Regions from separate parts of the Homo sapiens genome. Here region 2 is linked to region 1. Evidence: fine-mapped expression QTL. A gene starts in region 1. The other region holds a variant in brackets. All regions are shown on one strand. Distances are from middle to middle.

What was found.
Region 2: its variant is fine-mapped to the expression of CRKL in whole blood (TOPMed, PIP above 0.99).

Annotation. Positions count from the first base shown.
Region 1 is chr22:20,910,370-20,921,535 of GRCh38, reverse strand. CRKL (CRK like proto-oncogene, adaptor protein) reads right to left here and starts at 4,129. Exons shown (of 3, transcript NM_005207.4): 1 at 3,291-4,129. The coding sequence starts at 3,601. RefSeq lists an enhancer at 3,413-3,472 and a silencer at 3,763-4,212.
Region 2 is chr22:20,694,845-20,706,010 of GRCh38, reverse strand. LOC107985584 (a long non-coding RNA gene) reads right to left here and starts at 10,475. Exons shown (of 2, transcript XR_007068010.1): 1 at 10,263-10,475; 2 at 9,082-9,206. It also overlaps the pseudogene BCRP5 and the pseudogene TMEM191A. RefSeq lists silencers at 2,343-2,492, 3,223-3,292 and enhancers at 2,212-2,784, 2,883-2,992, 8,663-9,279. The variant A/G (reference allele first, on the strand shown) is at 5,969.

The DNA.
Region 1 (11,166 bases):
CCCAGGTAGGTCCCTCCTGTATATTGATCTTACTAGTACTTTATTTTTCTACTTTTCAGTCTGTCTTCTCCACTACAGTAGGAGTTCCACAGGAAGAAAGTATGTCTGTCACACATCTTTCCCAGTACCTACACTGGGTTACACTGGGTTATAATTCTCTTATAAACATTTGAATAAAAATATAAAATTAAAAATTATGAAGCATTCTAATGAAAAGGATAAGACTATAACAATGCAAGCCACCAGTCCTTAAATTTCGAGTAGGACATTATTGTTACAAATTTTAGCTATGCAAGATAAACCAAAATATTAGCCAAGAGGCATGAAACTCTGGCTTTAAAAGCTCAGTTTTGATGCCTGCAAAGTTAAGCCACTAAATGTACCCTGTTTGGGATGCGAAGAAGCATTACACTGAGTTTTCCGTTTGGCCCAGGCTCTAGTAGTCACTAGCTTTCTATAAAAGGCTAATAACATGTTAAACCTAAGCCATGAAAACCAGGCTTGGGAGTGGCAATTCGAAGATTCAGTATAACAAAGTAAACTCAGTCAGGATCTAATTCAACCAGCATGGTGATCTCCTTCAGAGATACCTAGGAAAATGAAAAACTAAATTAAAGCAACAGGCCTGAGGCAGAGGGCACAGAGAAGGAGAAACAAAGCTGAACGTGAGGGGTAGGGTCAGAGAAAGGCCCTATAATCTGTGAGGGGACTGGAACAACAGGTAGGATTTCAACAGATGGAGAGTGAGGTGTAGTTAAGGCAGTCAGTGAAGAGCCAACAGCTGGAGCAAAGGTGCAAAGGTACAAAGGTATGAGTAAGGAAGGATGGCTACCAGGGAATAAGTGAGCAGCCTAGTACAGCTGCAGTAAAGGAAGGACGAAAGAGGGCAAAGACAGAATTACATGCTTGTTCTCTAAGAAGATGCATGCATGTACGGAAAATCTGGAGGCGATTCTGTGGATAGAGAGAAGCGGCATACTTCTTTTCCTTCCTCTAGAAGGAGACTCAAGTCATTAACTTTTTCCTTTTTTTTTTTTGAGACAGAGTCTCACTCTGTCACCCGGGCTGTGCAGTGGCGCGATCTCGGCTCACTGCAACCTCCGCCTCCCGGGTTCGAGCGATTCTCCTGCCTCAGCCTCCCGAGTAGCTGGGATTACAGGCACCCACCACTACGCCCAGCTAATTTTTTGTATTTTTAGCAGAGACGGGGTTTCACCATGTTGGCCAAGATGGTCTTGAACTCCTGACCTCGTGATTCGCCCGGCTTGGCTTCCCAAAGTGCTGGGATTACTGGCGTGAGCTACCACACCCGCCCATTAACTTGCTTTTTGAAACAGCTGTATTATTAGTACTCATGACCTCAACATAAGCATATGCATGGCTTAATGAATGCCTGGTATTAATTATATAATTCACGCTCACAAACGAGAGGAAGAATTTATTCAGTCATATTACAAATCTCACTACAGTGGGTTCTAAGATTCTCAACTCCTTAAATTGGAATTATATTGTGCTCAAAGTTGACTGCAACTACCAGCATCTGCCAGGAACCGCAGGTTTCACCAATCAGATTCTTGGTGTCCTGGTCTTTGTTATACAGTATTTGATTTATAATCACTTTCTCCCCACTTTTAAAGTCCATTTAGTTCAGTAGTTAATCTTGTAGTCATTATACTGTCATGGCTTTTTTTTTTCTATCTCTATCCCACTATGCAAACAGTTGGTGTCCTCAATTATAATAGCTTTTAATGTTTAAAGTTTAGAGTAATACCCGGTCGACAAATCCATAAAGTCATAAACATCTAACCCTGGAAAAACTGTATCAACACCCAGTCCTTTTAAAATAGATGTTTAAGAAACGAACTGGCCAGTTTGTTACTTTAAAAATTCTAGGCAACTTTTCAACTCAAATTTGGGATAATTTAAATAAAAGAAACCTCTGATAAAATCAGTGTTACAGGGCAAACACAACAATAAAAGCAAATCTCTGCTAAAACGCTTAAGGCAAATTAAAGCAACTAATCAATTAAAATAACGTATTTCACTTGGAAAAGAGAATGCTTGGTCACTTTGCGTTAATTTTAAAATAAGAAATACAAAATCATTAGACTTAACACAAAAAGCATGTCTGAAATTGAACTAGGATACAACTAAGTGTCATTCAAAAATTTTCCTTAATAACATTCTAGCCTAATTCCACCTTGGAAATTAACCAGACTGATCTCTGGCCTACTAATGGTCCTCGGGGAGAAAATATGCAATAAATTTTCCAAAAAATATCCTCGCTGAAGCCAATGCACCTTCTCTTATCTTTGTAATTAACGTACTATAAAAGTGGTGGTGTCTGGCCTGCTTCAAACTTGGCACCACAGTATCAATATACAGTTCTGATATTTTGGTTAAAGGTTTTTTTGTTTCTAAACGCTAAAGCATTTTCATTTTTTTGACTGTTCCAAAGGCTGCAGTCCTGGAGTTCTTAACCTGGAGTTCAGAGATCTGGAGGGAGTACAAGCACCCGGGATGGTGTGCAAACTTGTGTGTACGTGCCTTTGGCGGGGAGGGGTGGGGGTGGGGGTGGGGGTGGGGTGGTGAGTGCTCGGCTATCTTCAGATTCTCAAAGAAGTCTATGGCTTAAAAACGGTTTTTGGCCGGGTGTGGTGGCTCACGCCTGTAATCCCAGCATTTTGGGAGACCGAGGCAGGCGGATCACGAGGGCAAGAGATCGAGACCATCCAGGCCAACATGGTGAAACACCGTCTCTACTAAAAATACAAAAATTAGCTGGGTGTGGTGGCGTGAGCCAGTAGTCCCAGCTACTCGGGAGGCTAAGGCAGGAGAATCGCTTGAACCCGGGAGGCGGAGGTTGCAGTGAGCCGAGATCGCACCACTGCACTCCAGCCTGGCGACACAGCGAGACTCCGTCTCAAAAAAAAAAAAAAAAAAGAGGTTTTTAGAAAAACCAACAAATCCCTGCATCAGTATTACACCCAGAGAAAGTCACGAAAGGCAAAAAGCGTGCATTTTAACTATGCAACCACCGTTAAACATTCAAAACGCATCCTCTTCACATTGAGAAACAGCCTCGTGAGAGGGAAAAAAAAAAAACGCATCCTCTTATCCAGTGACCCAGATCCTGACACTAGCTTTCTGTTAGGAAGGCCTTCTGGAAAATAATTTGGTTCAGAATGCGGGGAATATGGGTTCAAGCGCGCCCCACCCCCCTATACAAGCACTCTTCGACAGACCCGGTTCTCGACCTTCCTCCGCGGTCGGGGAGGGCTCTCGCGTACCTGGGCGCAGGCTCGATGAGGGTGGTGGTGTCCAGGTAGTGGATCTTGTAAAACTCCAGCAGGGCCGGCAAATGGTCAAATTCCTGGTCCCCGATCTTAAAACGGCGGTTGGGCAGCGAGTTGATGATGTAGTGGGAGACCCGCGAGTTCTCGGACACCGACAGCACATAGTCCCCAGGGCAGGTGGAAGAATCGCGGACGAGGAACATACCGTGGCGCTGGCCCTGGAGCCGGGTCTGCGCCTCCTGGCGAGACACCGGCCCCATATACCAGGCGGAGCGGTCCGAGGAGTCGAACCTGGCGGAGGACATGGTGTTGGACCGGGGACTCTGCGGCGGTAGGGGCGGCGGCTGTCCTCGCCTGCTCTGCACGCCTTAGCCCGGCAGACGGCTTTGGGGCCGAGGAAGGGCCTCTCGCACACCTCGAGGAGCGCTCAGAGGGCTGGGCCAGCACTTTCCTCTCGGCTCCGGGCCCGCAGCATCCTCCGACGCCGCCCGCCTGCTCCGGGGCCGCCACACGGAGAGAGCCGCCCGGGAATGCACGGCAGAGCCGGGGGGTCGGGGCAGGCAAACCCGAGCCGCAGCGGAGGCCACCCCGGGGTTCTCGGGCTGCTCGGCGTCCCAGGGGTGCCTCCAGTGACTCCCGGCCTGGAACGCGCCGGCGCCGCAGCTCGACGGGTCTTCACCGACCCCCGCCGTCACACGAGGCACCGAACTCGAAGGAGCGTCGCGCCTCCGGGGTGCTTTTGCCCAGCTTGTTCCCAATAGCCACAGCAACAAAATGGCGGACGCGGGAGAAGCGGCAGCCACCTCCCCCTCCGCTCAGCGCGCTCCGTCTGCGCACGCGCTGGGCCCCGGCTCCCGGCGGCCGCCGGGGCCCTCCCGTTACGTCACACAGCGCAGCCAATCAGGAGCACCGTCGCGACGATCAGGGTGGGCGCTGGTCGCGCCCGCTCCCGCGTTCCAGGAGGAGGCTGAAGAGGCGCCGGCGGTAGGCACTCTCTTCCTGGGCCGCTGCGCGCCGCTGGGGGCGCTGCGGCTGCCGGGTCTCCCAGCGCTGGCAGGAAAACAGCTGGAGCCGAGAGGGAACCGCGTTTCGAAAACCTGCTTCTGGGAACAAAGCGTAACGTGCAGGCTGAATCGCGGGCCAGGGAGGCGTGGCACTGAGGCGACCTGGCCAGCCTAGGGGCCTGAGGGAGGTCAAGGACTGACAGGTCCCGATGGGCCGAGGTGGCCCAGTAAAAGGATGAGCCCAGGGGCAGATGTGACCACCAGATAGGTGACTGACTGAATGACTCAGTCCCCAGGTGGCCTGATAGGCTAAGGAAGCCCTAGTGGCTACGTGACCCGCTAAATGGAGTGAGAGGAGAGAGAAGGTGAGGGTTAGATTGACTCAATTAAGTGGTCAAGGAAGTCCACAAGTGGGTAACCTGGCTATCATGGGCTCTGAACTGCTGAAAGTAAAATACAAATGCCTCTCGGGCGTGGCCCCGAGGCTTCCCCTGCCCCGGATTATGCCTGCTTCTGCCTATTTATTAATCCCTATTTGTTTTTGTTTGTTTTCTTTCTTTCTTTCTTTCTTTCTTTCTTTCTTTCTTTCTTTCTTTCTTTTCTTTTTTCTTTTCTTTTCTTTCTCTCTCTCTCTCTCTTCCTTTCCTTTCCCTTTCCCTTTCCTTTCCCTTTCCCTTTCCTTTCCTTCTTTCGACGGAGTCTCGCTCTGTCACCAGGTTGGAGTGCAGGGGCGCGATCTCGGCTCACTGCAACCTCCGCCTCCCGGGTTCAAGCGATTCTCCTGCCTCAGCCTCCCGAGTAGCTGGGATTACAGCTGTCCGCCGCCATGCCCTGCTAATTTTTGTATTTTTAGTAGAAACGGGGTTTCACCATGTTGGCCAGGCTGGTCTCAAACTCCTGACCTCAGGTGATCTGCCTGCCTCAGCTTCCCAAAGTGCTAGGATTACAGGCGTGAGCCACCGTGCCCAGCCTGTTTGTTTTATTTTGTTTGTTTTTGAGACAGGTTCTCCTTCTGTCACCCAGGCTGGAGTGCAGTGGAACTATCATGGCTCACTGCAGCCTTGATTTCCCCATCTCAAGGGATCCTCCCACCTCAGCCTTCCGAGTAGTTGGGACTACAGGCTCGCGCTGCCATGCCCAGCTAATTTTTTTGATTTTTTTTTTTTTTTTTTTTTTTTTGAGACGGAGTCTCGCTCTGTCGCCCAGGCTGGAGTGCAGTGGCGGGATCTCGGCTCACTGCAAGCTCCGCCTCCCGGGTTCACGCCATTCTCCTGCCTCAGCCTCCCAAGTAGCTGGGACTACAGGCGCCCGCCACTACGCCCGGCTAATTTTTTGTATTTTTAGTAGAGACGGGGTTTCACCGTTTTAGCCGGGATGGTCTCGATCTCCTGACCTCGTGATCCGCCCGCCTCGGCCTCCCAAAGTGCTGGGATTACAGGCGTGAGCCACCGCGCCCGGCCTTTGATTTTTAATAGAGACGAAATCTCACCATGTTGCCCAGGCTCGTCTCAGACTTTTGAGCTCAAACAATCCTCCCCCTCAGCCAAGATGTGAGCCACCCCGCCCAGCTATGTATGAAACAAGTTAATATATGCAAAGTGCTTAGAATAGTACCTGGCACATAGTAAGCATCATATGAGTCTTCCATTATTATTATTCAGTCATTCCCTGGGCCTCTACCTCTATACCCTAAAACCCTGAGCATACACCCTCAGTGGGTGGGTGAGGGTGGAGAGAAAAATCTCCACTTTGTTTTCTAACTACTTTTCACTGTCAGATTTACCACTTCATAATCACCTGCTCCTTGCCCAGCCCTTTTTTTTTTTTTTTATTCTGATACGGACTCTAGCTCTGTAGCCCAGGCTGGAGGAGTGCAGTGGCGTGATCTCAGCTCACTGCAACCTCTGCCTCCCAGGTCCAGGTTCAAGCAATTCTCCTGCCTCAGCCTGCCAAGTAGGTGGGATTGATTACAGGCATGCACCACCATGCCCAGCTAATTTTTGTATTTTTAGTAGAGACAGGGTTTCACCATGTTCGCCAGGCTGGTCTTGAACTCCTGACCTCATGATCCTCCTGCCTCAGCCTCCCAAAGTGCTGGGATTACAGGCGTGAGCCACCGCCTGTAATCCTAGTGGTGATTTTTTAATTTTTAAATTTTTTGTAGAGATGAGGTCTCACTGTATTGCCCAAGCTGATCTGGAACTGCTGGGCTCAGGTAATCCTCCCAGCTTGGCCTCCCAAAGTGTTGGGATTACAGACGTGAGCCACCCACCCAGCTGCTCAACCTTCTTAATCTGGCTTCTACCCATGCTTTGACTGAATTAGGCTTTTTGGGTTTTGTTTTGTTTTTAAAGACATGTCTCTCTGTTGCTGACTCTCGTCTCAAATTCCTAGGCTCAAGTAGTCCTCCTGCCTCAGCCTCCAAAGTAGCTAGGATTACAGATGTGAGCCACAGCAACCCGCTCTCTGCCCTCTAAATGCAGAGCGTCCTTCACCTCTCCATAGTTTTTCCTTTAGTAGGCTAATAATCAGCATGAAGCATTTAGGGGTCACATCTCTGGTGACTCCAAACACATATTCTAAAAGCAGAACCAAAACTGACCATACTCTCTGATTACTATGTATACACTGTGGGCACAGCCTAAATTAATTTTTATCACATTCTATTGTAATTGTTCATAAATATTTTTCTCATCCCAATCTGAGCATCTTGAGGGCAGCCTGCTATATATTATTTTTTCTATTCCCAGTACCTAGCACATAATACATACTTTTTTTTTTTTTTGAGATGGGGTCTCATTCTGCTGCCCAGGCTGGAGTGTAGTGGTGCAATCTCGGCTCACTGCAACCTCTGCCTTCTGGATTCAAGTGATTCTCCTGCTTCAGCCTCCTGAGTAGTTGGGATTACAGGCACGCGCCACCATGCCTGACTAATTTTTGTATTTTTAGTAGAGATAGGGTTTCACCATGTTAGCCAGGCTGGTCTCGAACTCCTGACCTCATAATCTGCCCGCCTTGGCCTCCCAAAGTGCTCGGATTACAGGTGTGAGCCACCACGCCCAGCCGATACATACTTAATGTATGGTTTTTGAATGTAGATGGATAAAGATGGGAGGAAGCCAGAGAAAAATGATAATTGAACATTAGCTGCTGGCTCACTCCCTTTTCAGCAGCCCTCTTTGCCTCAGCCCTCTTTGCCTCATCTTTTCAGGGTGTACTATCTGTCTATATAAACTATCTGCTCTTGGCCAGGTGCAGTGGCTCACACCTGTAATCCCAGCATTTTGGGAAGGTGAAGCAGGTGGATCCTTTGAGGCCAGGAGTTAGAGACCAGCCTGGACAACATTGCAAAACCCCATCTCTATTTTAAAAAAAGTAAAAACATTCTTTTTTTCGAGACAGAGTCTCACTCTGTTGCTCAGGCTAGAGTGCAGTGGCGTGATCTCGGCTCACTGCAACCTCCGCCTCCCTGGTTCAAGTGATTCTTCCTGCCTCAGCCTCCTGAGTAGCTGGGACTACAGGCGCATGCCACAACACCTGGCTAATTTTTGTATTTTTTAGTAGAGACCAGGTTTCAACATATTGGCCAGGCTGGTCTTGAACTCCTGACCTCGCAACCCGCCCACCTTGGCCTCCCAAAGTGCTGGGATTACAGGAGTGAGCCACGGCACCCAGTCAATGTAAAAACATTGTAAAAATAAACTCTCTGCTCTCTATTTTCCTTAAATAAACTCTCTTTTTAGAAAAAAGTAAAGTCCGGGCACAGTGGTTCACACCTGTAATCCCAGCACTTTGCAAGGCTGAGGTGGGCAGATCACTTGAGGTGAGGAGTTCAAGACCAGTCTGGCCAACATAGTGAAACCCTGTCTCTACTAAAAATACCAAAATTAGCTGAGCATGGTGGCGCTCACCTGTAGTCCCAGCTACTTAGGAGGCTGAGACAGGAGAATAGCTTGAACCTGGGAGGCGGAGGTTGCAGTGAGCCAAGATTGTGCCACTACCCTCCAGCCTGGGAGACAGAGTGAGACACCATCTCAAAAAAAAAAAAAAAAAAAGAACCAAATATCTCTCATTTTGCTTCTAAATACTCCAGAGGGGAATAAGGTGTGGGTTAGATAAAAGTGAAACAAGAATGGCCATGTGAGATTGATAATTATTGAAACCAGGTGACATGATGCGAGGGTAGGGTTAATTATATTCTATAATACTTTTATGTATGTTTGGAATTTGTCATAATAAAATTTTTGTAAAAGATACTTTCCTTTATTTTTCCTTAGCACAGTTGAGACAAGCATAAAATAAACTTTCCAGGCTGGGCATGTTGGCTCATGCCTGTAATCCCAGCACTTTGGGAGGCCAAGGTGGGTAGATCACTTGAGCCCAGGTGTTCAAGTCCCAGCTACTCAGGAGGCTGAGGTTGGGGGATCATCTGAGCCCAGGAGGTCGAGGCTGCAGTAAGCCTTGATTGTGCCACTGCACCTCAGCCTAGGCAACAGAGCAAGACCCTGTCAAAAACATTCCAAAAAAAGTTACTAAATGCTGAGATAGCAAAACAGCAATGAGTAGAGAAACAGAAAGAAACCATTAAAAAAGCTGTAATAGGCCGGGCGCAGTGGCTCATGCCTGTAATCCCAGCACTTTTGGAGGCCGAGGTGGGTGGATCACGATGTAAGGAGATCAAGACTATCCTGGCTAACATGGTGAAAACCCATCTCTACTAAAAATACAAAAAATTAGCCGGGCATGGTGGCAGGCGCCTGTAGTCCCCGCTACTCGGGAGGCTGAGGCAGGAGAATGGCGTGAACCCGGGAGGCGGAGCTTGCAGTGAGCCGAGATTGCACCACTGCACTCCAGCCTGGGCGATAGAGCCAGACTCCGTCTCAAAAAAAAAAAAAAAAAAGCTGTAACATATAGATTTTGATTCTTCCTTAGCTTGCATATTCCCAGGGTTTCTAGATGGTATTATACTTAAACTCTTGTCTTCTAAAATAATTACAATCGCCAGACCAGCTGCGGTGGCTCATGCCTGTAATCCCAACACTTTGGGAGGCCGAGATAGGCAGATCAGCTGAGGTCAGGAGTTCAAGACCAGCCTGGCCAACATGGTGAAACCCCGTCTCTACTAAAGACCAGGCATGGTGGCACATGCCTGTAGTCCCAGCTACTGGGAAGGCTGAGGCAGGAGAATCGCTTGAGCCCAGGAGGTGGAGGTTGCAGTGAGCCGAGATCGCACCAATGCACTCCAGCCTTGGTGACAGAGTGAGACTCCGTATCAAAAAATAATAGCTACAGTTGCCACGTGTGGTGGCTCATGCCTGTAAACACAACACTTTGGAAGTCTGAGTCAGGAGGAGTGCTTGAGCCTAGGAGGTTGAAGCTGCAGTGAGCCCCAGATCATGCCACTGTATTCTAGCCTGGGTGACACAGTGAGACTGTGTCTCAAAAAAAAAAAAAAAAAGGGCTGGGTGTGGTGGCTCACACCTGTAATCCCAGCACTTTGGGAGGCCAAGGCAGGCAGCTCACCTGAGGTCAGGAGTTTGAGACCAGCGTGGTGAAACCCCATCTCTACTAAAAATAGAAAAATTAGCGAGGCATGGTGGCGTGCGCCTGTAGTCCCAGCTACTCAGGGGGCTGAGGCAGGAGAATCACTTGAACCTGGGAGGCAGAGGTTGCAGTGAACTGAGATTGCGCCACTGCACGCCAGCCTGGGTGACTGAGAGAGACTCTGTCTCAAAAATATATATATATTTTTATCATGGATTAGTTTCAGATGAATAATGTCATAAATAACCATAGGCTCTAAACACCTTATATTTTCCAGGGCTTTATAAATTTGCTCAACTAAGCCTTTTTCTGCTTCATACATGATTACCACCATCACTTGTTACCCATTTTAGCAGATTCCACTTTGGGTTATACTGAATTATTGTTTTCTCAACTTAAAAAGAATACGTATATATATAATGCACACACACACACACACATATATATGTAAAAACTCTGCAAGGCAGGCATTTGGTGCTGGGCTCTTACCTGTTCACTTGCCATTACTGAGGGAATCCTGGTTAGTTTCTTTTCCTCTGCTGACTAATATGCTTAAATTCAGCTGGTCATCACGTCTGGTCTGAGTTCAAGTCTTTTATTTATTTATTTTGTTATTGTTTGTTTGTTTTTTTGAGATGGAGTCTCGCTCTGTCGCCCAGGCTAGAGTGCAATGGCATGATCTCGGCTCACTGCAACCTCTGCCTCCTGGGTTCAAGTGATTTTCCTGCCTCAGCCTCCTGAGTAGCTGGGATTACAGGCGCGCGCCAACATGCATGGCTAATTTTTGTATTTTTGTAGACACTGGGTTTCACCATGTTGGGCAGGCTGGTCTTGAACTCCTGACCTCAGGTGATCCGCCTGCCTCGGCCTCCCAAAGTGCTGGGATTACAGGTGTGAGCCACCACACCCGGCCTATTTATTTATTTTTGAGACAGAGTCTCACTCTGTCACCCAGGCTGGAGTGCAGTGGCATGATCTTGGCTCAGTGCAACCTCTGCCTCCCAGGCTCAAGCGACTCTCATGCCTCAGCTTCCCGAGCAGCTGGAATGACAGGTGTGTGCCAACACGTCTGGCTAATTTTTGCATTTGTAGTAGAGACAGCGTTTCACCCTGTTGGCCAGGCTGGTCTCGAACTCCCGACCTCAGGTGATCTGCCTGCGTCAGCCTCCAAAAGTGCTGGATTACAGGCATGAGCCACTGTGCCTGGCAGAGGTTAAGTCTATTAGAGATGAGGGCCCACTGTGTTGCCCAGGCTGGTCTCGAATTCCTGGGCTCAAGCAGTCTGCTGTCCTTGGCCTCCCAAAGTGTTAGGATTACAAGCA
Region 2 (11,166 bases), 220 kb after region 1:
GACAGATCTAAGATGAAAATAACAGATGGAAAAAAGACGGGCCATCCATAATCAAAATGTGTATGGGTGTTTATGAAGGGGCATTTCACAATAAGCAATTGACGGCGCTACCAACAAGAAAGTAAACACAGGAGCCCTGAACAAGCCTGTCACTCACCTTGACCTGCTGGGTATTTAGAACACACTCTGTCGGCCTGACACGGTGGCTCATACCTGTAATCCCAGCACTTTGGGAGGCCAAGCCAGGCGGATCACAATGTCAAGAGATCAAGACCATCCTGGCCAACACAGTGAAACCCTGTCTCTGCTAAAAATACAAAAATTAGCTGGGCATGGTGGCATGCATCTGTAGTCCCAGCTACTCGGGAGGCTGAGGCAGGACAATCACTTGAACCCAGGAGGTGGAGGTTGGAGTGAGCCGAGATTGCACACCACTATACTCCAGCCTGGCGACAGAGCGAGACTCCGTCTCAAAAAAAAAATCACTCTGTCAACAGCAACAATACACTTTCTTCTCAATGTTCATTACAAGCTTTGTGCTGGGCCACAAAACAAGTCTCAGTAAATGAGATAGAATTAAAATCACGCAGAGTGTATTCTCTGTCCGCAGTGGAAATTAGGACTCGGTAAGATATCTGGAGAAAATGTTGGCCAGGCACGGTGGCTCATGCCTGTAATCCCAGCACTTTGGGGAGGCCAAGGTGGGCGGATCACGAGGTCAGGAGATCGAGACCATCCTGGCTAACACAGTGAAACTCTGTCTCTACTAAAAATACAAAAAATTAAACGGGCATGATGGCAGGCGCCTGAAGTCCCAGCTACTTGGGAGGCTGAGGCAGGAGAATCGCTGGAACCCGGGAGGCAGAGCTTGCAGTGAGCCGAGATCATGCCACTGCACTCCAGCCTGGGCGCAGAGCAAGACTCCATCTCAAAAGAAAAGAAAAAAAAAAAAAGTAGCACATGTGATCAGAGGGAAAAGACCTAAGATGCTTTAAGGCGGTTTAGGGGAAGATGACAGCAATGAGCTGAGCTCAAGTAGTAAGAATACCAGAATACAGAGTGTGACTTCCCAAATAATCAAACAGAAGGAAAGGGGAGCATTGAAAAATCAGGATCAACATGTTACAAATGGTAGAAATAAATTCAAATATAGTAGAAATAATTTCAAATCACAATACTTGAAAAAAGCAGCTTGTCAAATTGGCAAAGAAAAAAGTGTCAAATGCTATGTACAAGTTTCTGGCAATATGGCAAATTATGTATCCTGAAAAACTAAAAATGCTGTTTACAATACTGGGGAGTGGATCTAAATCCATGAGCTGTAAGAAAGGAAGGAATCTTTGGAGGCTGAAAAGCCAGTCAAGCTCCTACATGACATGGGAGACAGACGACGAACCCACGAGCTTCATCCCTTGAGGAGTTTATTAGGCGACCTTGGTCTACACTCTCAGGAGAGGAGTGCACCAGAAATAAAGCCGGTGCCCTGGAGTCCACCTGGAGCCAGGCGCGGGGCGCTGCACTTAGGTTGGCAGCAGCCCGTTAGCGCGCAGCTCCAGCAGCGGGGACAGCGTGTAGCGCAGGCGGCGCAGCGTCGTCTCCGAGGTGAGGCTCCAGAGCCACGCGGAGACGGCGCCGGGGTCCAACAGCACCGTCCAGAGCAGCGACAGCCCCAGGAAGAGGAGCGGCAGCGTCAGCAGCGCCTGCAGGGCGAAAGGCGGGCAGGTGGGCGGCGGCTCGGGCGGGCACGTGGGGGACCGCGGCCGCGCCCACCGCCCTGCTCACCTGATGGCCAGCGCGCGAGGACCGCCGAACAGCCGCGTCTCCTGCGGGGAGAGAGGGCCGCATCCAGCTACCTCCGCGCCCGCGGCGCCGGCCCGGTTTCCAGGAGGAGGGGGAGGCGGTACCGCGGGGGGGATGGGGAGGGGTGTCCCGCTCCAGCCCACCCCGCCCGGACCCGCGCAGGCGCTCACTCGGTCCGCCCTGGCCATCTCCTCCATGAGCGACTCGGTGCTGTACTGCACTCTGCGAAGCTGCCCGTCACACCTGCGGGGACAGGCATGCAGGTGGGAGCCCAGCCCGGCCCGGCCCCACAGTGCCCCGCCGCGCCCGCAAGCCCAACTCCCTTACAGTTCCCGGCCACTCTGCCAGGCGTCCAGCTCCTCCGCAGCCTCCATCACCTTCACCTGCACCTCCTGGAGCGGGTGAGAGTGCGGACTGAGGCCTCGGGGAGGCGTCCTGGCGGTGGGTTGGGAGACTTACCGCCCCAGGTCTGGGGGAGGAGAGGCGGGAGGCACCTTGGCGTCTGAGTGGGGCCGCACCTGCAGGACTACGGTCTGCTCCTGGAATATGGCCCAGGCCTCCGCTGTCTGCAGCGCGTCCTGGGTGTGGACACCCGGGTTAGACTCGGCGGGGGCGGGGCGACAGGCCCTTCCCCATCCACACTCGAAAGCCTACCCTCCTCCAACAGAACCCGCTTCTGCCCTCACCTGCTGCAGCTTCTCCTCCTGCAAGGCGCATTTGGTCTCCGCCAGCTCCAGTTCATTCTTGAGAAGGACCCAGGGAATGTCAGGAGGTCCGCAGGCCGGCAACCCGCTGCGCCTCCGGGCCCCGCCCCCGGCCCTCAGTGCCCGCCCCCAGGCGATCATGACCCCGCCCACGTCCTCAGGACCAGTCGTAAGCAACGCCCCAGCTGGTCATGGCCCCGCCCCCTCCGCGCTCCGCCCGTATCTAGCCCTCAGGGCCCCGCCCCCAGGCGATTATGCCCCGCCCACATCCCCGCCCCGCCCACGCCTTCAGGGCCTGCCTTAAGCCACACCCCCAGGTGGTCACGGCCCCGCTCACGCTGCTGCTCCGCCCCTACTAAAGACCTCAGGGTCCCGCTCAAGCACCTGCAGCGTCACCAATTGGGCTGCGAGTTGCTGCTCCGTGCTCTTCTGGCTCTGCAGTTCCCCTCCGTAGTAGAAGAGCTAGGGGCGGGGCTCGTAAGGACGGGGTTTACCGGGCTTCTGGAGGAACGAGTGTCAGGGGAGACAGGGACGGGGAGGCAATGAGAGCGAGGGCAAGGGCAGGACTTCCGAGAGGAACCAAGAGACAGGCCCTCCCATCTCCTGCACGTACCTGACTCGACAGCTCCTCCCACTGCCCTGCAGCTGCCTGCTGTGCTGCTCCTGCGGACAGGGTCCTGGGGCGGTGCCGGCCTCACCGCCGGTCCTACCTCACCCCACCCCCGGATCCTGCCCCCTTCCGCCCGCCCTGCCCCACCCCACCCTGGGTCCAGCCCCATTCCAGGACTCTTCCTCACCAAGTCCTCCTTGTGGCGCTCCGCCTCCTCCAGTCTTCTGCGCACCCGCTGCGCGCGCTCCCGCGCCGCCTCGCGCACCTCCCCTTGCAGAAGCAGCGCTTCCTGGCTTCGCCTCCGCAGCAGCCTGCAGAGGGAAACTGAGGTTGGCGCTACAAGGCGGACTGGGTCGCTCAGGATCCCGCAGTCGCCAGGAAGGACCAGCCGCAGGCTCATGATTGAGGACTGGGAAGTCCTGGCCGAGTCCCCCACCTGGGTCCGCTGGGTGGATCACCCGTTCCCAAGGGCCTAGAGCAGAGATGCGGGCCCGGGCGGATCAGCCTGGTACTCTGCGAAGCACCTCGCGGCGCTGCCTGCGGGACCGACCCTCGCGCGCCCGCCAGGTAGAGGGGCGTTCCCCGCGCACCTCCGCTCCCGCTCGCTCAGGTCCTGCAGGCGCTGGTTGAGGCAGGCTCTCGCTCTCGGCCTCGAGCCCGCGCATCAGCTTCTCTAGCTCCTGCTTCCGCTGGCGACCATCTCGGTTATCCTTCTGCAACTGCAGCAGCAGCTCCTGCGTCGCGGCCATGGCTGTGGAGACCGAGCCTAAATGCCGCCCGCCTCGGGGACCCAGCCTGCGGCTGGCAGGCGTCACAATGGGCGGCAGGGAGCGCCTAGCGGGCTGGATCACAATGGGCGGCAGGGGAAGCCCGAGGGTAGCCCGACACATGCCCCTTCTCACGCCGGCCGGAGGCGGGTCAGGCCGGATCACACTTAGTCCATCACTGATGAAAATTGTGTCAAAGAGCCGTAATTAGATCAATGAAAGGTTAATGAAATACTAATACCAAATGCAGGCAAGTTGAAGATTGGTTCCCCCACAGTGCAGATGGCACTTGCAAACTGATCGATCTCTTGTGGAAAAGAACCCATAAATATGTTCGTAACTTTTGACCCAATTATCCCTCTCCTGGGAAATTTATCCCAGGAAGGAGAAAAAATTTAAACCCACTACACACTAAATGGTTCGCTGAAGTGGTTACAGTAGCCACAAAAAAAGGAAACAATTTTAATGATTAAAATGTGCTTGGGTATTATGTGGTATGCCTAGAGCTATTATGATGTCTAGTGAAAAAGAATTTGATTTAGCATTTATGCTAAAGTAACTAAGATAAAATACATGAGCAAGATCCGTAAAGGAAACAGGAAGAAGATAAGCTCTTTCATTGCTTGGTGAGACTGTAGGTAAACTCGTCCTTTTAAGTATTATTATTTTAGAGGCAGGTCCTGCTGTCACCAGGCTGGAGTACAGTGGAACAATCGAAGCTAGCTGCAGCTTCAATCTCCCAGGCTCAAGTGATCCTTCCGCCTTAGCCTCCCAACTTGTCCTTTTAAAATCTGCCTTTATTTGTCCAGTTACAATTATGAACTTGGATGCAAAAATCCAAAATAAATTACTAACAAAATCTAAAGGGAAACAGAAATCCATGGAAACCAAACAGAGTTTATTCCAGGGATTGTTCAACATCAGAAAATCAGTGTTGTTCATCATATGGACAAACAGGGAAGAACTCCACGATCTCAGTGGCGCACTTCAATAGATGCAGAAAACGTGAAGATGAGGGTCACCATCTATTAATAATTTTTTTTTTTTTTCTGAGACAGAGTCTCACTCTGTTGCCCAGGCTGGAGTGCAGTGGCACAATCTTGGCTCACTGCAACCTCCGCCTACTGGGTTCAAGCAATTCTCTGCCCCAGCCTCCGGAGTAGCTGGCATTACAGGCACTCGCCACCACACCCAGCTAATTTTTTTGTATTTTTAGTAGAGACAGGGTTTCACCATCTTGGCCAAGCTGGTTTTGAACTCCTGACCTCGTGATCCACCCACCTCGGCCTCCCAAAGTGCTGGAATTACAGGCCTGAGCCACCTCACCTGACCATCTATTGATAATTCTAAAAGCTCTTTCTTACAAAAGGGAGAGATAAAAGCACTCTCTAGTCTGATAAAGGCCACGGTAAATATTATAGTAAGGAGGAAGTATTAATAGTATATGCTTTTTTTTCTTTTTCTTTTTTTAGAGTCAGGGTCCTGCTGTCACCCTGGCTGGAGTGCAGTGGTACGATCAAAGCCAACTGCAGCAGCCGCAAACTTCAGGGCTCAAGCGATCCTCCCGCCTCTCACCCTATAAGAAGTAGTAGACGGCCGGGCGCGCTTTTAGTCTGGGCGCGGTAGCTCACGCCTGTAATCCAGCACTTTGGGAGGCCGAGGTGGGTGGATCACGAGGTGAGGAGTTCAAGACCAGCTTGGCCAAGATGGTAAAATCCTGTCTCTACTAAAAATACCAAAAAAAAGTTAGCCGGGTATGGTGGTGCTTGCCTGTAGTCCCACCTACTTGGGAGGCTGAGGCAGGGGGAATCGCATGATCTTGGCTCACCACAACCTCCACCTCCCGGGTTCAAGTGATTCTCCTGTCTCAGCCTCATGAGCAGCTGGGATTACAAGCATGCGCCACCACGCCCAGCTAATTTTGTACTTTTAGTAGAGACGGGGTTTCTCCATGTTGGTCAGGCTGGTCTTGAACTCCCAACCTGAGGTGATCCACCTGCTTTGGCCTCCCAAAGTGCTGGGATTACAGGCGTGAGCCCCTGCGCCTGGCCCTACACCCGACTGATTTTTGTAGTTTTAGTAGAGAC[A/G]GGGTTTCACCATGTTGTCCAGGCTGGTCTCAAATTCCTGGCCTCAAGTGATCTGCCTGCCCCGGCTTCCCAAAGTGCTGGGATTACAGGAGTGAGCCACCGTGCCCGGACTAAAAGGTACATTTTTAAAAAAGAGGTGACTTAAGATTTCATAGAAACCAACTTTTTGTAAAACTATGATAAGCCAAATACTTGGACCAGCCCTCACACTGAGAAGTACCAAAAATGCTGACAAAATAAAAGGATGTTTTCTTAAAGGCATCCAGGGGCTGACAAGACAGTGAGGAGCCGCCAGGCACCATCTGGGGAAACCAGAAACCAGAGAGGCGAGCCAAGCCGCTCTTGCCCTGAAAACATCTGCCCCCATCCAGCCACCCCGGGCTTCCGATGAGAACTCTAAGGCTGGTCCCCACCCCACAGAGCACCCCACAGAATTTGGGACTTATGGCCCAAATTCACACCAGTGAGAAGATTCCAAAACCTCACAGTTGATGGATTTAGTTTAAATTGGCTTTAGGCTGACAGCGCCCTGAGGTACCTGGCAGAAGGAAGCGTAAACCTAGTTTGGAGGAAGCATCTTTACCCTAGGTCTGAAAAATTCCCACAAAGTCATTTTTCCAGGACAATGAGTAATGCAGTCAAAAGTAACCACACATTCACGGAAACAATGCCCCATGAGCAAGGACAGAAAAGGCCAGCAGCAGGACCAGATCCAGAGACTCAACATCTCAAAGACCTGAGGCAGACCATGAGGCTCCTCCACTTACCTGTACTCACGGAGGGAACCGATGAGCTTGAAAGTATATGTGACGAACAGCAAACGAGAAAAAAAAATGACCTTGCAGAAAAACAGGTGTAGACATTCTAGAAATAAACAGCATTCAGCCCAATGGGTTTAACAGGAATAGGAGAATAAAAAGAGAATACCTACACTGAAGATACGTCAGAATAAATTATGCTGAATAAAGAAGAGTGAGAGGCCGGGCGCATTGGCTCATAGCCAGGGTCGAGGTCACTCTCTCCCTGAGGACTCTAGCACGGCACAGCCCCTCTGCCTCTCTCCTGGTGGTGGCGTTGAAACAGCACCTTCTGCTTTGGTCCTCTACAGGGTGGCAGAGAAGGAGGCAGTCAATAAGATGTCCCTGCACAACCTTGCCACTGTCTTTGGCCCCATGCTGCTCCGGCCCTCCGAGAAGGAGAGCAAGCTCCCTGCCAACCCCGGCCAGCCCATCACCATGACTGACAGCTGGTCCTTGGAGGTCATGTCCCAGGTGTGGGAAGACAGGCTCCAGCCCATGCAACCCCAGCCTGACAGAGGTGGCCTCTGCCTGCCCCACCCCCAGTCCTGCCCATCTTCCAACTTGCATTGTATGTGGTGGTGGCTGAGATTCAGAGACAGGGACTTGCCTAGGTTTGCATGGATGGGAGTGATAGGGGGAGCCTAGGCCACCTCCTGCTCCTGCTGGTGCACCTTGCTGGGGGCTTAAAACCACCCCAAGTGTTCAGGTGTGGTGGCTCATGCCTGTAATCCCAGCACTTTGGGAGGCCGAGGCAGGACAACTGAACCCAGGTGTTTGAGACCAGTCTGGGAAATGTAGCAAACCCCATCTCTAGAAAAAATACAAAGAAAAATTAGGCAGGCATTGTGGCACACATCTGTAATCCTAGGTATCTGGGAGGCTGACACAGGAGGATTGCTTGAGCCCAGGAGTTAGAGGCTGCAGTGATCCATGATGGAGCCACTGTACTCCAGCCTGGGGGACAGAGCAAGGCCCTGTGCATCTCTAAAATAAATAACCACCCCCCACCCAACAAGTCATGCCTTGTCAGGACCCCACCCCACCCCCGTCTCACTGTAAGGGGTTCATGACACCAGCAGGGGTTTCTAGCACCTGAGGTGGACTTGGGGACTTGGGCCCCAAAGACCTCCCCACCAGCAGCTGTGAGCCCCCCTCTGAGCCACTCTCCTCTTCCCCACTCCGCGAGGGCAGGTCGAGGTGCTGCTGTACTTCTTGCGGCTGGAGGCCGTCCCTGCCCCGGACAGCAAGGGACAGAGCATCCTGTTCTCCACCGATGTCTAAAGGTCCCAGTCCATCTCCTGGAGGCGGACAGATGGCCTGGAAACCTCTGGCTAATCAGGCTATCTGTAGAGTGGGAATCAAGATTTTCTGAGGCATCCTTGGGCCACCCCCAGGTGTCAGGCCATCTGCCAAGAGACAGCGGCCCAAAGCAGAAGGACAGGTGGCCTGGGCAGATCCCGCCCAGGTCTGAAAGCCCCAGGCTGGCCTCAGACTGTGGGTTTTCCATGCAGCCACCTGAGGGCGCCCCAAGCCAGTGCATCTCAGAGGCCAGGCCTGGCCCTGGGAGACAGAGTGAAACCAGTGGTTTTTATGAACTTAACTTAGAGTTTAAAAGATTTCTACTCGATCACTTGTCAAGATGCGCCCTCTCTGGGGAGAAGGGAACGTGACCGGATTCCCTCACTGTTGTATCTTGAATAAACGCTGCTGCTTCATCCTGTGGGGGCCGTGGCCCTGTCCCTGTGTGGGTGGGGCCTCTTCCATTTCCCTGACTTAGAAACCACAGTCCACTTAGAACAGGGTTTGAGAGGCTTAGTCAGCACTGGGTAGCGTTTTGACTCCATTCTCGGCTTGCTTCTTTTTCTTTCCAGGATTTTTGTGCAGAAATGGTTCTTTTGTTGCCGTGTTAGTCCTCCTTGGAAAGCAGCTCAGAAGGCCTGTGAAATGTCGGGGGACAGGACCTCCAGGGAGGGAATCCCAGGCTACGCACCTTAGGGTTCGTTCTCCAGGGAGAGCGACCTCGTCCCCCGATCCTGACCGCCCTTCCGGCCCACGCTCTCCTGTTTGGCTTCCACAGGCCTGGACTTCTCTGGCTTCTCTGCCCACACACTCCCTGCCCCCAGTGTCCCTGCCCCTGCCCCAGCACAGGTGACTTCATTTCTGTCCTCTCAGCTCAGTGGACTCGCTCAACTTTTGTATAAGTCTCCACTTGGTGGTAGCAGCTTGCTGATGACTTGTTTTAAAACTTTCATCCTAAATAACCTTTTGATACTTGAATATTTGTAAGTTTTATACATAGTTTCTAATTTTTTCCCCAACAGATCCAGATACCTAATAAGATGCTGGAATGTAATCCCTGGACAATCCGTGTCCTGGCAGCATTTGGTCTTCCTCTAAGCGCCTGGCTCCGCTGTTCTCAGGAGTGGGTTCTGAAGTCTCTGGAGAACAGGATACGTGGAGGGTTAGGAAGGGGCCAGGCCTAGAGACGGGAGACTCCCTCCCGGAGCAGGTGGAGGCACAGGACCATTCGCTACCCCATCTGCCGGCACCTGCGGGGGAGCCCAGGCATTGTTTGTAAACCCTCCTGACTACCTGACTCAAAGAAAACAGAAGCATGGAGGCCGCCAAGTATTTTCAAGAAATAATCCCATGAACGTGGCATCACTTTTTTAGAAAGAGGGGCTTGGGGCAGGCAGAGGAGAGAAGGGAGAGCAAACTGAGAGCCAAGTTTCCAGACGGTCCTGCAGGAGGAGAGGATGCAGCTGCGCAGAGGGAAGCAGGATCACATTTAAGGAAGTGTGTGGGGTCCCTGGATGACACCAGCACCCAGTACGGCTCTGTCTGGCAACCGCTCCCAAGGTGGCAGGAGTGGGTGTCCCCTGTGTGTCAGTGGGCAGCTCCTGCTGAGCCCGCAGCTTACTGGGGAGCCTGACAGCAGGGATATGTACCTGACACTCCTCTCTGCTTGTGGACCTGATGAGGCAGGGAGCAGAAAACAGAGCCACTTGAAGGCTTTCTGTCTGCGTCTTTGTGCAGTGTGGATTTAGTTGTGCTTTTTTCTTGCTGGGAGAGCACAGCCACCATTTACAAGCAGTGTCACCCTCATGGGTGGTGAGGACAGAACAGGAGCCTCTGCTCTCTGTACCTATCTGGGCCCAGTGGGCTCCCCTGTCCTGGCTTCCATCTCTGTCTCAGTGACCATTCAGCCCTGCGCAGGAACACATGTTGCTTAGAAAAGCCAAATCCAGCCCTTGTCTCTGCCTCCTCTGGTCTCATGATGTGCATCTGTTACCTTGAAACTGGAAACCAGTCTATCAATGTCTGTGCCAGTTTTTTATTCCCTCCCCAACCTCCTTCCCCATACGACTTTTTATTTATGTAGGATGTGTGCTGTCTAATGATGGGATGACCACACTTTTCCATGTTCTAAAAGTGCTTCTCTCCCGCAGGGTCCCAGGGCTGGTGGTTGCTTTGGGTCTACAGCTACGTCTTACCCGCCTCCTGCCTCAACAGCCTGTGTGGTGGCAAAGCCGGTGTGGGGCTGGGGAACGCAGCGTTCTCCAGGAGGGGGACCCGGCTCTCCTTCTGCAGTGCAGGCGAAGGCCTAGATGCCAGTGTGACCTCCCACAAGGCGTGGCTTCCAGACTCCCCGGCCGGAAGTGATGCTTTTTTGCCGCGGGCCCTGGGTTTGAAGCAGCCTGGCTTTCTCTTGGTAAGTGGCTGGTGTCTCAGCAGCTGCAATCTGAGCTCAGCCACCTACACACCACCGTGGCCAACACTTTCATTAAAAAGTTTCCTGAGACGACTTGCGTGCATGTTGACTTCATGATCAGCGCCGCTGGGAAGAACCCCTGAGCTTGTGGGGTGGGGCTGGAAGCAGCAGGTGCAGTGATGGGGCTGGGTGCCCAGGAGGCCTCAGTGCTCAATCAGGCCAAGGTGGCCAAGCCCAGGCTGCAGGGAAGGCCGGCCTGGGGGGTGCGGGTGAGCACAGGCAGGCACCAGCTGGGCAGTGTTAGGATGCTGGAGCAGCATCCGTAACTCCACTGAGTGGGGTAGTCTGGTTGGGGCAGGGACCGCTGTTGCTTTGGCAGAGAGAGATGATCCCCACTGGGGAGAGGCTGTTCTGACTCTGCAGGTGGGACAGGGACAGATGGCCACCAGGGTGACCCGGCTGGTCTTCCTTTGCTATGCTAAGCCCTGGGACATGGAGGATTCCTGCCACACAGCCTGGGCCCGGGTTCTTACCTGTGGCCACCGCTCTGGCACGAGCCCCTCAGTCTTGGGTGGTTTCTGCCTGGTCCGGGATTTGGTGTTGCTGCTGACTCCAGCCTTTCCACCACCTCTGCATGGGCCGTGGGTGTTGTCAGCTGCCTCCTGCCTTGGCTTCAGTAGCTCACC